Regions from separate parts of the Homo sapiens genome. Here region 2 is linked to region 1. Evidence: fine-mapped expression QTL. A gene starts in region 1. The other region holds a variant in brackets. All regions are shown on one strand. Distances are between the middles of the regions.

Region 1 (5,371 bases):
GAAACAAATTACCCTATTAAGTGGGAGGAGAACGGTATGGCTCCTCCAAGCCCAAAAATTATTGATCCAATTATAAGCCCAGAACATCCAGAATTGTGGAAATTAATGATGGCTCAAAGCCCAATTCGGATTTGGAAAGCAGAATGTAAAACAGAGACCCATAGTAAAAAACTTCGATTTGTTGTAGCCATGACCTCTAATCAGATGGTCCCATTGCAGAGTTGTGTTAAACCTCCTTTTATGTTGGCAGTGGGAAAAATTAATATCTTACCTGACTCTCAAACCATATCATGCCTCAACTGTCGTCTTTTTACCTGCATTATTTCTGCCTTTAATAAAGATAATAGCATTTTACTGGTTAGGGCCCGAGAAGGAGTTTGGATACCTGTTTTCCTCAATAGACCTTGGGAGGCCTGTCCCTCCATACATATTATCACTGAAGTACTAAAAGGAATACTTAATAGATCAAAGAGATTCCTATTTACTTTAATAGCTGTGGTCCTGGGCCTTGCTGGTGTTGCTTTGCACTCTTCTATTCAAACTGCGGACTTTGTGGGTAGTTGGCAGAAAAATTATTCTAAGCTTTGGAATTCCCAAAGCCAAATAGATCAAAAATTGGCAAATCAAATTAATGATCTCCGTCAAACAGTAATTTGGATGGGAGATCGGATTATGAGCTTGGAGCATAGAATTCAAATGCAATGTGATTGGAATACTTCTGAGTTTTGTATTACTCCTAGCTCTTACAATGCCACTGAACACGATTGGGAGATGATTAGACGTCACCTACAAGGAAAAGAAGATAATTTAACATTAGATATTGCTAAACCGAAAAGACAGCTTTTTGAGGCATCTCAGGCTCATCTCAGCCTGTTGCCTGGAGCTGATATTCTTACTGGAGCCGCTGATGGCCTTTCTAACACTAATCCTTTAAAGTGGATTAAAACCATAGGTGGATCAACAATTGCAAATTTTATTTTGGTTTGTGTCTGTTTATGCTGTTTATTTTTAGTCTACAGATGCCGACGGCGCCTTGGTAGAGAAGCCAGACACAGTGAACGAAATAGCAATGGCGGTTATTAATAAAAAAAAAATTAATAGAGTCGGGCGCAGTGGCTCACGCCTGTAATCCCAGCACTTTGGGAGGCCGAGGCGGACGGATCGCAAGTTGAGGAGATCGAGACCATCCTGGCTAACACGGTGAAACCCCGTCTCTACTAAAATTACAAAAAATTAGCCGGGCGCGGTGGCGGGTGCCTGTAGTCCCAGCTACTCGGGAGGCTGAGGCAGGAGAATGGCGTGAACCCGGGAGGCGGAGCTTGCAGTGAGCCGAGATCGCGCCACCGCACTCCAGCCTGGGCGACAGAGCGAGACTCCATCTCAAAAAAAAAAAATTAATAGAGACAAAAAAAGGGGGACATATGTGGGAAAGAGAGTTTCTGGAATGCCAGATGAGTTGGTCCCCCCTGCGTGAGACATCCATGGGAAGCCATGGGCGGCCTCTGAGGAGAAAAGTCTCCTTTTTGCCTTCATGTCTTTACGCATGCCACAGGTGCTGGCGGAGATAACACTCCCTTGAAGCAGTGGAGTACAATCAAACATCTTGGCTGCTCCTGAAACCCGCTCCCACGCATTTCAGTCCGGATAAGGTAAAGATCTTAAATAGTTTAGACACACGCCTTTGCTAGAGGAAATTCACAGAAACCGCCACGGCTACACATCTTATTAAATGAGTCACGAGTTCTCCTTCATTGATTAATCCTTTTCCTCATCCCTTCTCACCCCTCCCATTTGCCCTAAGAACGAAGAGCTGGTAAACCAATAAATTGGGTGGAGGCCGAGAGCTCGGGGCCGCGAGCAAGCCTCCGACGCCCTGGTCCCCTGGACCCGCCGGTTAAACTGTGATTCTCTTTCTAAATCCTTTGTCTGCGCCGGACTCGGGGTACCCGCCGGGTGGTGTGGGGCTGGTTTCCCCACCAGCTCTCGAACTCCTGCACTGAAGCGCTCCTCCCGCTTCAGTCTCCCCAGTGGTTGGGATTACAGGCGTGAGCCCCCGCGCCCGGCCAAAGGGCCCCCTAGGACCGGCTGTCTCCCCCGACTACGCACCCTCGGCCCCCAGCCTCGCGCCAGACACGGCGCCGCAGCCCCAGCGCGCGGGGGTGGAGAGAGCCGCGGGGCAGGGGCGCCCTGTGGGTCCCGCGGTCACGCCGGATCGCTCGGCCGCAGTAGTGGGGCCCGGGCGGGCGCAGGGCCGGGCTACGGGGACCGGCAGGCGCGCGAAGGGCCCGGGGCGCCGGGAGGACTCGGGTTCACAGTCGCTCCCGCTCCGGAAAGTTTGCGGCGGCTGCCCCGGGAGGGACTTCGGCGGGGAGGAGGCGGCGGCGCCAGGTGGCCGAAGTCGGAGGGGTCCGTCCGCTCCCGCAGCCTAGGAGCGCGCCCTCCCCGCCGGTGCCGGGGCCCGTGGTGGGGGTCGCACCCACCGCCGCTTGGCCGGGACCGTCTTGGCTGGCGCCGCCTTGGAGCTCGTAGGCACCGCGCGCGGTGCGGGGAGCGGCCGGGGCGGAGGGACCCAGCGAGCCCGGGGAGGGCCGGGGTCCTGCAGGCGGAGGCGCCGGGGAGGGTGTGGGGTCAGGGCCCGCGCGGCGCTGCTTCTGCTCCCGAAGACTGCGGTCGGAGCTGGCGCAGCGGAGGGTGCGGCTCCCGGAGCGCGAGGCCGCAGCGGGGAGTGACCGGAAGTGGCCTCTGCAGCCGCGTCCCTGGGCCCATGTCAGGGACGGCTCTGGCTGAAGCAGGAGGACGGCGTTTGGAGGGTGGGGTGGGCGCGTCCTCTCGGCGGCCCGCGTGGACTGACAGCCACCACTGCCCCCACGCTGCCCTCGTGCCCGCGGTTCTAAGAAGTCGAATGCCAGGCGGAGGCGACGGGGCAAATGGCCCAGGCTTGGGAGGCCGCTGGCGGTCCAGGTCCCGCAGGATGTGGAGGATTTTCGAGGAGGGCCCAGGGGCTGGAGGGTGCACAGGCCCATCTTGCACAGGAGCCACGGCCCCGGCCTTAGCTGGGCGGAGCAATTCCGGTGCCGCCGCCCCTTCCCCGCCCGGCCATGCTCGGGCTCCAGGCGGGCTGCTGCAGGGGGCCTGATCCGGTGGACGATCGGCTCCTCACCCCGGCAAGGGCCCCCACCTCGGCCGCTGACAGCCTCGCAGGGAGGCCCCAGCGATGAGCAAGGGGGCTGGCGGGAGGACGGGAGGCCCCGCCGGCCTGAGTCCTGGACAGGTGATTGGCAGGTGAATGAGCTGGAGTGTGCAGCGTGCCTGGCTGGGGGCCAGGGAAGATCTGCCGGGACCTCAGGGGCTGCAGGCTGCCAACTGCCCGCCCCAGCTCTGGATGCCCTACTCGAACCTCAGTTTCCTCACCTGCCAGGAAGGACCCGTATGTCAGGGGTGTTTTGACGATTAAACTGGACAATCCAAATAAACTCGCATTAGCCCTCCTTGGCCGCACATCTTTCTGACTTTGTACGAAACTCTGGAATGCCTGTAGGTGGGGAGGCAGGCAGGCCAGACCTTGGCCCCTGGCTGCATTGTCCCTTCTGGGCGCCCCCACTCCTCCTGGGCCCTTTTAAAGCACATACCTAGCGAAACATCTGGACCTCAGAGAGCCTCAGAGAACTTTGTGCATTTCCAAAACCAAAATGCTTTCTTCCCTGACCCCATGTTCTCATCTTACTCCAAAACGCAAATTCCTTGGGCAGCCAGCTTCAGAAAAGGGCCTCAATTTGATGTTTGTTCTCTGGGACCCACCCCAGGGCCCTTTTGATGGAGCATCATTCCACCTCCATCCCCACCCCCTCCCCCCGGGGCTTCCCCCAGTACACTGGGGGCTCTTAACTGTAACAACCTGGATCTGGCCACTAGACTCCCAAGGCAGGGGACAGGGAACACAGTTCCCCCAGCAGACTGGCCTAGCCATGGCCTGATGAACAGTGATCTCTGGGCAGGAGACCCAGGACAGGAAATATCTCCGCCCTCTACTGTCAGACCCTCCTGCCTTCGGGGTGAGATCACCTTTTGCCACAGTGGGAAAAACAGGCACAGGGCCAGTGACCAGCAAAGTCAGGGAGACTGTGACCGGGAAACATGCCCAGGCGCTGAACAGCACTTCCAGGTTGCCACAGCCTTTGGGCGGTTCTTGGCATGTGGCACCCTGGTTGGGTCAGCACCTTGTGGGGTGGGGGTGCTGGCAGGAGCAGGTGCTGTGGGACCCACAGCAGGAGGGGAACATTTTCACCCTATCCTGGCACAGCAGTTTTGTTCTCTGATGTGTGTGATGGGAAAAAAAAAAATCAAAAGAAGAAGAACACTTTATGACACTTTCCAATTAGAAGTTTCCATGTCCATAGTAAAGTTTTCTGGGAGTGTAGCCTTGCCTGTTCATTCACATGTTGTCTGTGGAAGGCTGCGGTCACGCTGCAACTGCAGGGCCCCGTCCTTGAGACGGATGCATTGACAAAGTTGAAAATATTGACCCTCGGCTCTTTAGGGAGTTTCCAGCCCATGCCTGGTTTTGAGCACTGTCTGCTGAGACCCCAGGCTCTGGGCTGGCTCCTTCCTCACTCAGGGCTCCAGTGGCCTCTGCTGGTGTGCCTGTAAAGTGGGGGTGCCATGGGGCCTCCCTATGGGGGTGTTGAGTCCTGGAGTGCCAGGTTTTGGGGTCCCTGCATCACAGTTGACCATCTCCCTGGCAGAGATCCCAGTGCCTGATTCTGGCCAGTAGGAATATTTACTCTTAACCAATGGGGACACCTTGGAGCTGAGCTGCCACCCACCCAGCAGTGGTCCCATGACACCCCCTGTCTGGGTCAAGGTTGGGGCAGGGCTGGTGTCCTGAACTGCATCCTGATGTTCAGCAGCGGTGGCTGCTGGTGCTCAATGCCTTCGAGAGAACGCTGAGGCCAATAGCTGCTGGCAGCGGCTCACCCAGGTTGTGTGTACTGTGCCCTTCTGTGTGCGAGTGACAGGTGAGTGCCTGCAGGGGTCATACCAGGCTGTGTGGAGGGGGCCAGAGGTTAAAGTTCCCTGAGCAGCTGTGTGGTCCAGGAGCAGCCAAGGGGTCTCTGGAGGTGTGGCTGCCACAACTCTACCCTGAAGGTCTTGCTTGTCATTGGTGGAGAGGAGAGGACTCCCAGGAGGTGCTGCCTGAGGGACCCCATTTCCATCTGTGAGGGGCACCTAGGGTCCTCCTGGGGCGAGTCAGAGACTGGGCCCTTGGGGTGAAAGTCCCTTCTCTGGGCTGAGAAGCAGCAGGCACTGGGGCGTGGGCTGCCTCGGGGCCCCCGCCCACTCGCACCCTCTCCTGCACTGCAGCTGCCCTATC
Region 2 (5,371 bases), 34 kb after region 1:
TTTAAACTTTCTTCTACTCTAAAAATTTCAATTCATCTTATGTATTGTAGAAGATTTTAAATCTAATACAGGTATTGTCTTTTTTTTTTTTTACATATATTCTATTGGCATTTTACACTGGGATCATGGAATATTTCATTATGTAAATTATTTAATTTTTATGTAGAAAAAAGAAAATTATTTTGGTGTTTGTTTTGTTCTTTGCTCTATAATTTCCATTACATACTGATTAGATAATTTTTTGAGTATTTTAAATTTTAGGTAATTATGCATTTTATCCATAAAGAATCTGCATGTGAGAGAGAGAGCTATTTTCTCCTCACTTCTATTTCATCTCCATCCTGACCTCCCCAGAATCCTCAGCTCTTTGTGTAGTTGGATAGCAGTTTATAATTCCAGTAAATGGGCCTAATTCAATAATATACCACAAATCAGTTTGAAACCAGGACATGCCTTCAAGACACACCCAAATGCCTATATATATAATAATACTAAGTTACAATTGATGTAAAAAATAAAATTACAAAAGGATTGTTAAAGTAAATTCAAAGGGACATCAGGCCTAAAAAATCCCTGAGGAAATGTGTGATCAGAGGCTTTCCCAGGCACACACTGCTCTACAGCCCTACCACACAGGCTTAACCGAGAATTTGACCCCGGAAGGTGACGGATGAACATGTGTCCTGGTATTCTGATCTACAGAAATCCTGCCCTCTCTTAATGATCCATCCAGAGCTCTAGGATCGTTTCTAGATTTATTTACTACACACAGACTGGAAGTTTTTGACAGAAGCTTTGAACTGGGAACCCTACCCTGTTCCACCAGCTTCTCTAGAAGTACAATGTTCTAATTACTCCTGAGAGACTCCATCTGAGGGTAACTCTCTGAGCCAACAAGATTTAAAGTGAGAAGAGGAAAAAGGCAAGAGTCGGGCTATGTCTAGGATTCCCTTACCTGACTTATGTCTTTGGTTTACCCAAGTATTGATAAGATTCGTCTCTAGATGGTAGAAACTAGATGGAGGAGCACTAGCTCACAGAAGTAGACAATGGGATCAGTGCTCCATAGATCCAGCTTAAGCTCAGCCATGAGATACTAAGTCTCTCAGAAAAAAAAGTAACAGTTCTCCATCATCTACCCCCGTAGCCTCAGACAGCTAGGCAGTAAGCATGCATGCTCAATAAAACTCCACATCCACATCACAGAGAGAGATAGAACAATCCCAAAGGACCGTGAAGGGTGATGTGGAGAGACCAAAAGGATATGAACCCACAGCATCTGCCCTACCATCTGCTCCAATACTAACCCTGTCCTTTCCCAACATGATTTCCAGATTTTTCTTTGGCCCTCACTAAGGGTGATTCAGAAAGACAAAAAGTTATTAATGCCCTTCCATTCTCCATATCTCCTGAGGTCTCAGTTGTTTACTCTGCGGGTTTCGGGTAGCTATCCCTCCCCAACTACATCCACAAAATTAGTGTATCTCATTCAGCACCAAGAATTTCACCTTTATTCTGGTCACTCCCTACCTTCTCCTAGACATTTTATCTAGAAAAGCCAGATGAAATAGCGACAAAAATGTTTACATAAAACTCAACCACAACTAAGTTGGAGTATCATAATCCCACTTTGGGCTAGGTTGCCACTCAGCCTACTACAAACTAGGCTTGGGGCAGTTAGGGGAAAGCTAGGGTTTAGAGCTGATGTGAAAGTCAGCTAAAAGCTTGCTACCGAGCCCCTGTCAAGCTGAATCCTAACCCAAGGAGGACTGAGGGCTGCGTAGCTTTATATTCCACTTTTGAGGTGGGTGTCAGCTAAAAGCTTGCTACAGAGCTCCTGTCAAGCTGAATCCTAACCCAAGGAGGACTGAGGGCTGTGTGGCTTTATATTCCACTTTTGAGGTGGGTCAATTTGAACTCTCTGAAAGCCCGCAAAAGACTAGCTCTAAACCCTAGTCTAGTACAAACTAAGCTAGGGTTGCATTTAGCGGAAAGGAAGATTATCTTTTCTTTCTTTCTTTTTTTTTTTTTGAGACAGAGTCTCGCTCTGTCTCCCAGGCTGGAGTGCAGTGGCCCGATCTCAGCTCAATGCAACCTCCGCCTCCCAGGTTCAAGCAATTCTCCTGCCTCAGCCTCCTGAGTAGCTGGGACTACAGGCGTTCGCCACCATGCCTGGCTAATTTTTGTATTTTTAGTAGAACCGGGGTTTCACCATATTGGCCAGGCCGGTCTCGAACTCCTGACCTTGTGATCCACCCGCCTCGGCCTCCCAAAGTGCTGGGATTACAGGCGTGGGCCACTGCGCCTGGCCAGTGAGATGCATCTTTTCAGGTAGTCAGTGTGGAATCTCAAATTTGGGAAACAGATCTCTACAGCTCTCAACCATTTCATTCTTATCCTGGAGGCAGTCAAAAAGAGATTATTCCTTTTTAGAAAGAATTACATTCAGTCAACAAATTGTAACATATGGATCAGGAGAAGGAAAAGATGGTAAAATCAGCCAATTTTTAGTAGATTTGATGATAAAAGACACAACGTTGTCAGAGTGCAAATGGTTCTGAAATTTGAAAAGGTGACAGAGATTAGTTTCAAGGGACACATGGTGTGTCTGGAGTCAGTTTTTATGTTGATGGTGTGAGCAGTGACAAGGTATTAACAATACCTTCCAAAGTGAGTCAAAAGGTCGGTGAAGTCATTCTATTGAGAACGGTCGGGGGCCTCCCACA[C/T]TGTGAGACAAAAAGATCACCTTTCACCAAGAACCACAAGTCTGGCTGCAGTGCTGCCCTCAGCATTAGACATGGATTCAGATTCAATCCACAGCCTGGTTATAGTCAGTCTCTTCAGAGAACAGGCTCTTATTAAAAACTTCTGTTTTTTTTTTTTTTGACGGAGTTTCACTCCTGTCGCCCAAGCTGGAGTGCAGTGGTGCATTCTCGGCACAGTGCAACCTCTGTCTCCTGGGTTCAAGCGATTCTCCTGCTTCAGCCTCCCGAGTAGCTGGGATTACAGGCGCCTACCACCATGCTTGGCTAATTTTTGTATTTTTAGAAGAGACAGGGTTTCACCATGTTGGCCAACTCAAACTCCTGACCTCAGGTGATCCACCAGCCTCAGCCTCCCAAAGTGCTGGGATTACAGGCGTGAGCCACTGCGCCCGGCCAAAGACTTGTAATTGAGTGACTGGACACAGCAGTAAATCAGCTGCTGAGGTTATTTCCAGTTTGCAGCCTGAAAGGTTTCCTTTTTTCAGACAGTCTATAGTTTTTAATGCAAAAGACCAAACAGCTATAATGTGAGCAATGACCCTGAGTTCTGACCATTGAGTGGTGTGACCACCCCACTCAGGTTCCGCATGGCTGACACTGAAGTTCAGAAGCCACCATAGACAGTAGCTCAGTGAACACCATGTATTGGTAAAGCAGGGACAGAAATTTAGGGAATACTTAGTGAAGTGGGGGCCCCATAGAGCCAGAAGCTTTGCTTCATATAGTGCAGCAGGGCATAAAATTTCCACCAAAGATAGATTCCGATTTTCCCTTTAGAACTATTTCTGTGCCAGTCCAATTTCCTTCTAGAATACATTATTTATATTTAACAAGTAGTCTTTTGAGGTCTTTCATAAGAGTTCAAATTGACCCACCTCAAAATTGGAATACAAAGCTAGGCAGCCCCCAGCCCTCCTTGAGTTTGGATTCAGTTTGACTGGAGTTCTGTAGCAAGCTTATAACTGACTTTCACATTAGTGTAACCTGCAGTGGTGTCAGGGTGGCTATGAGTCAGACACCCCAAAGAATATCTTTAGGTGCAGGCTCTTTTTGTCAAAGGCCTCAAATGGCAAAGTGATCAAGTTTTTCTTGACTGCTGGAAGAATTAAGCAATGAAAATATGTCCACTTAGCTTCACTAAACCTTATTTGGAAAGCAGAACTCTGGGTTTTTTTCAGGTCTTCTTGTTATTGAGAAAACAGTGCTTACTATCCAATGTGCTAAGAGCCAATACATTGAGTTGTCACTGGATTTTTGTTTTTGAGACAAGCTTTATGTTGAAAGTTCACTCCCAAAGAGACAGGAGTCCCAAGCCCGAATCTGTCTCCCTCTGCTGGCATCAAGGCAGAATTTCTACTAGAACAGGTACCGGGGGGTAGCTTCTGAGGTTAGGAGGTGACTAGCGGATGATAATGGGAGGTCTGGAATGTCCATGGGCATGCCCAGTTATCTCTTCATGCTTCCTCATGGGTCATATGTGCAAATTTGGGGGGAGTTAGTAGGAAACATAGTGGAAATTCAGGCTATGATGTCAGCAAGCTCATTCTGTGCAGAGTCCCATTGGTTCTATTGGTTTAAACCAATTTCAGCTAATTACTTTTATCTCGTAAGTGGAGGGAATTTCAGTGTTTTAGCAAGTTTTTTTTTTTTTTAATTTGCCATCCTGTAAACTCAAGGATTTCTGTTAGTCATTGGCTTAACTTTTTTTTTTTTTTTTGAGTCGGGGTCTTGCTCTGTTGCCCAGGCTGGAGTCCAGTGGCACGATCTCAGCCCACTGCAACCTCCGCTTCCTGGGTTCAAGCCATTCTCCTGCCTCAGCCTCCAGAGTAGCTGGGATTACAGGCATGCACCACCATGCCTGGCTAATTTTTGTATTTTTATTAGAGATGGGGTTTCACCATATTGGCCAGGCTGGTCTCGAACTCCTGACCTCGTGATCCACACGGCTCGGCCTCCCAAAGTGCTGAGATTACAGGCGTGAGCCACTGCGCCTGGCTGCTTCTTTAACTTTTTGAAGCACAGTCTCAATTATCAGCTACATCTACTAGCAGAGAGATATTACTATTCTAGACAGGAGCACTGAGACAGACACCTCTGTCTTTGCAGCTAACAGCTCATGCAGGGTGAACATTTTGCATATCAGAGTGTAAAGGTTCTCATGATAAAGACTGACCTGCCCTCTGTGGCAAATGGAGAATTCTGTCTCTCTCACACTCTTCTACCTGTCTCCCACCCAGACTGGAATAATCCCCTCCGGCACTTAGGGGACAGGGAAGCACAAACACATACAACAAAATTCTAACTGTAAATTTTGGTGTAGAAACACAAGAAGACATTGAGTTAGCCCCAAAGGCCCCACCTCCATTGTTTTGTGACATTTCTGCTTTCATGGTGAACCCTGCCCAAGCCCTGTCAGTGAAGTTTTGGTATCAGCGAGTACATAGAGAGAGAGAGATTCTCTGCTTATAAGCAAGGCACCAACACCCACATTTCCTTTTAGTTTCTAGCAGCCTGTTGACTGCTTTCAGCAAAACCACAAGAACTTACAGTATTTTCTATTTATCCAAAGTGCTCTATCAGCTTTGTGGACTCCTCATTCTTTCCTA

Direction of the effects. Positions count from the first base shown, and alleles are read on the strand shown. Sizes are in standard deviations (SD) of each study's normalised expression.
For the expression in substantia nigra of the gene that starts at base 3,216 in region 1, allele T in region 2 goes with a lower level than allele C (large effect, 0.75 SD a copy in GTEx).

The links. PIP is the estimated chance that this variant, and not a neighbour inherited with it, causes the effect. A credible set is the group of variants that fine-mapping cannot tell apart.
Region 2: its variant is the best candidate, but not a certain one, in a credible set for the expression of LINC02897 in substantia nigra (GTEx, PIP 0.76).

The regions. Positions count from the first base shown.
Region 1 is chr1:247,109,202-247,114,572 of GRCh38, forward strand. It overlaps LINC02897 (long intergenic non-protein coding RNA 2897), which reads right to left and starts at 3,216. Exons shown (of 1, transcript NR_167894.1): 1 at 954-3,216. It overlaps FLJ39095 (a long non-coding RNA gene), which reads left to right. Exons shown (of 3, transcript NR_147502.1): 3 at 1-360.
Region 2 is chr1:247,142,763-247,148,133 of GRCh38, forward strand. It overlaps a transcript of ZNF124 not described here. Among named protein-coding and RNA genes, the nearest start is that of ZNF124, 27 kb to the right of the region's middle. The variant C/T (reference allele first, on the strand shown) is at 2,727.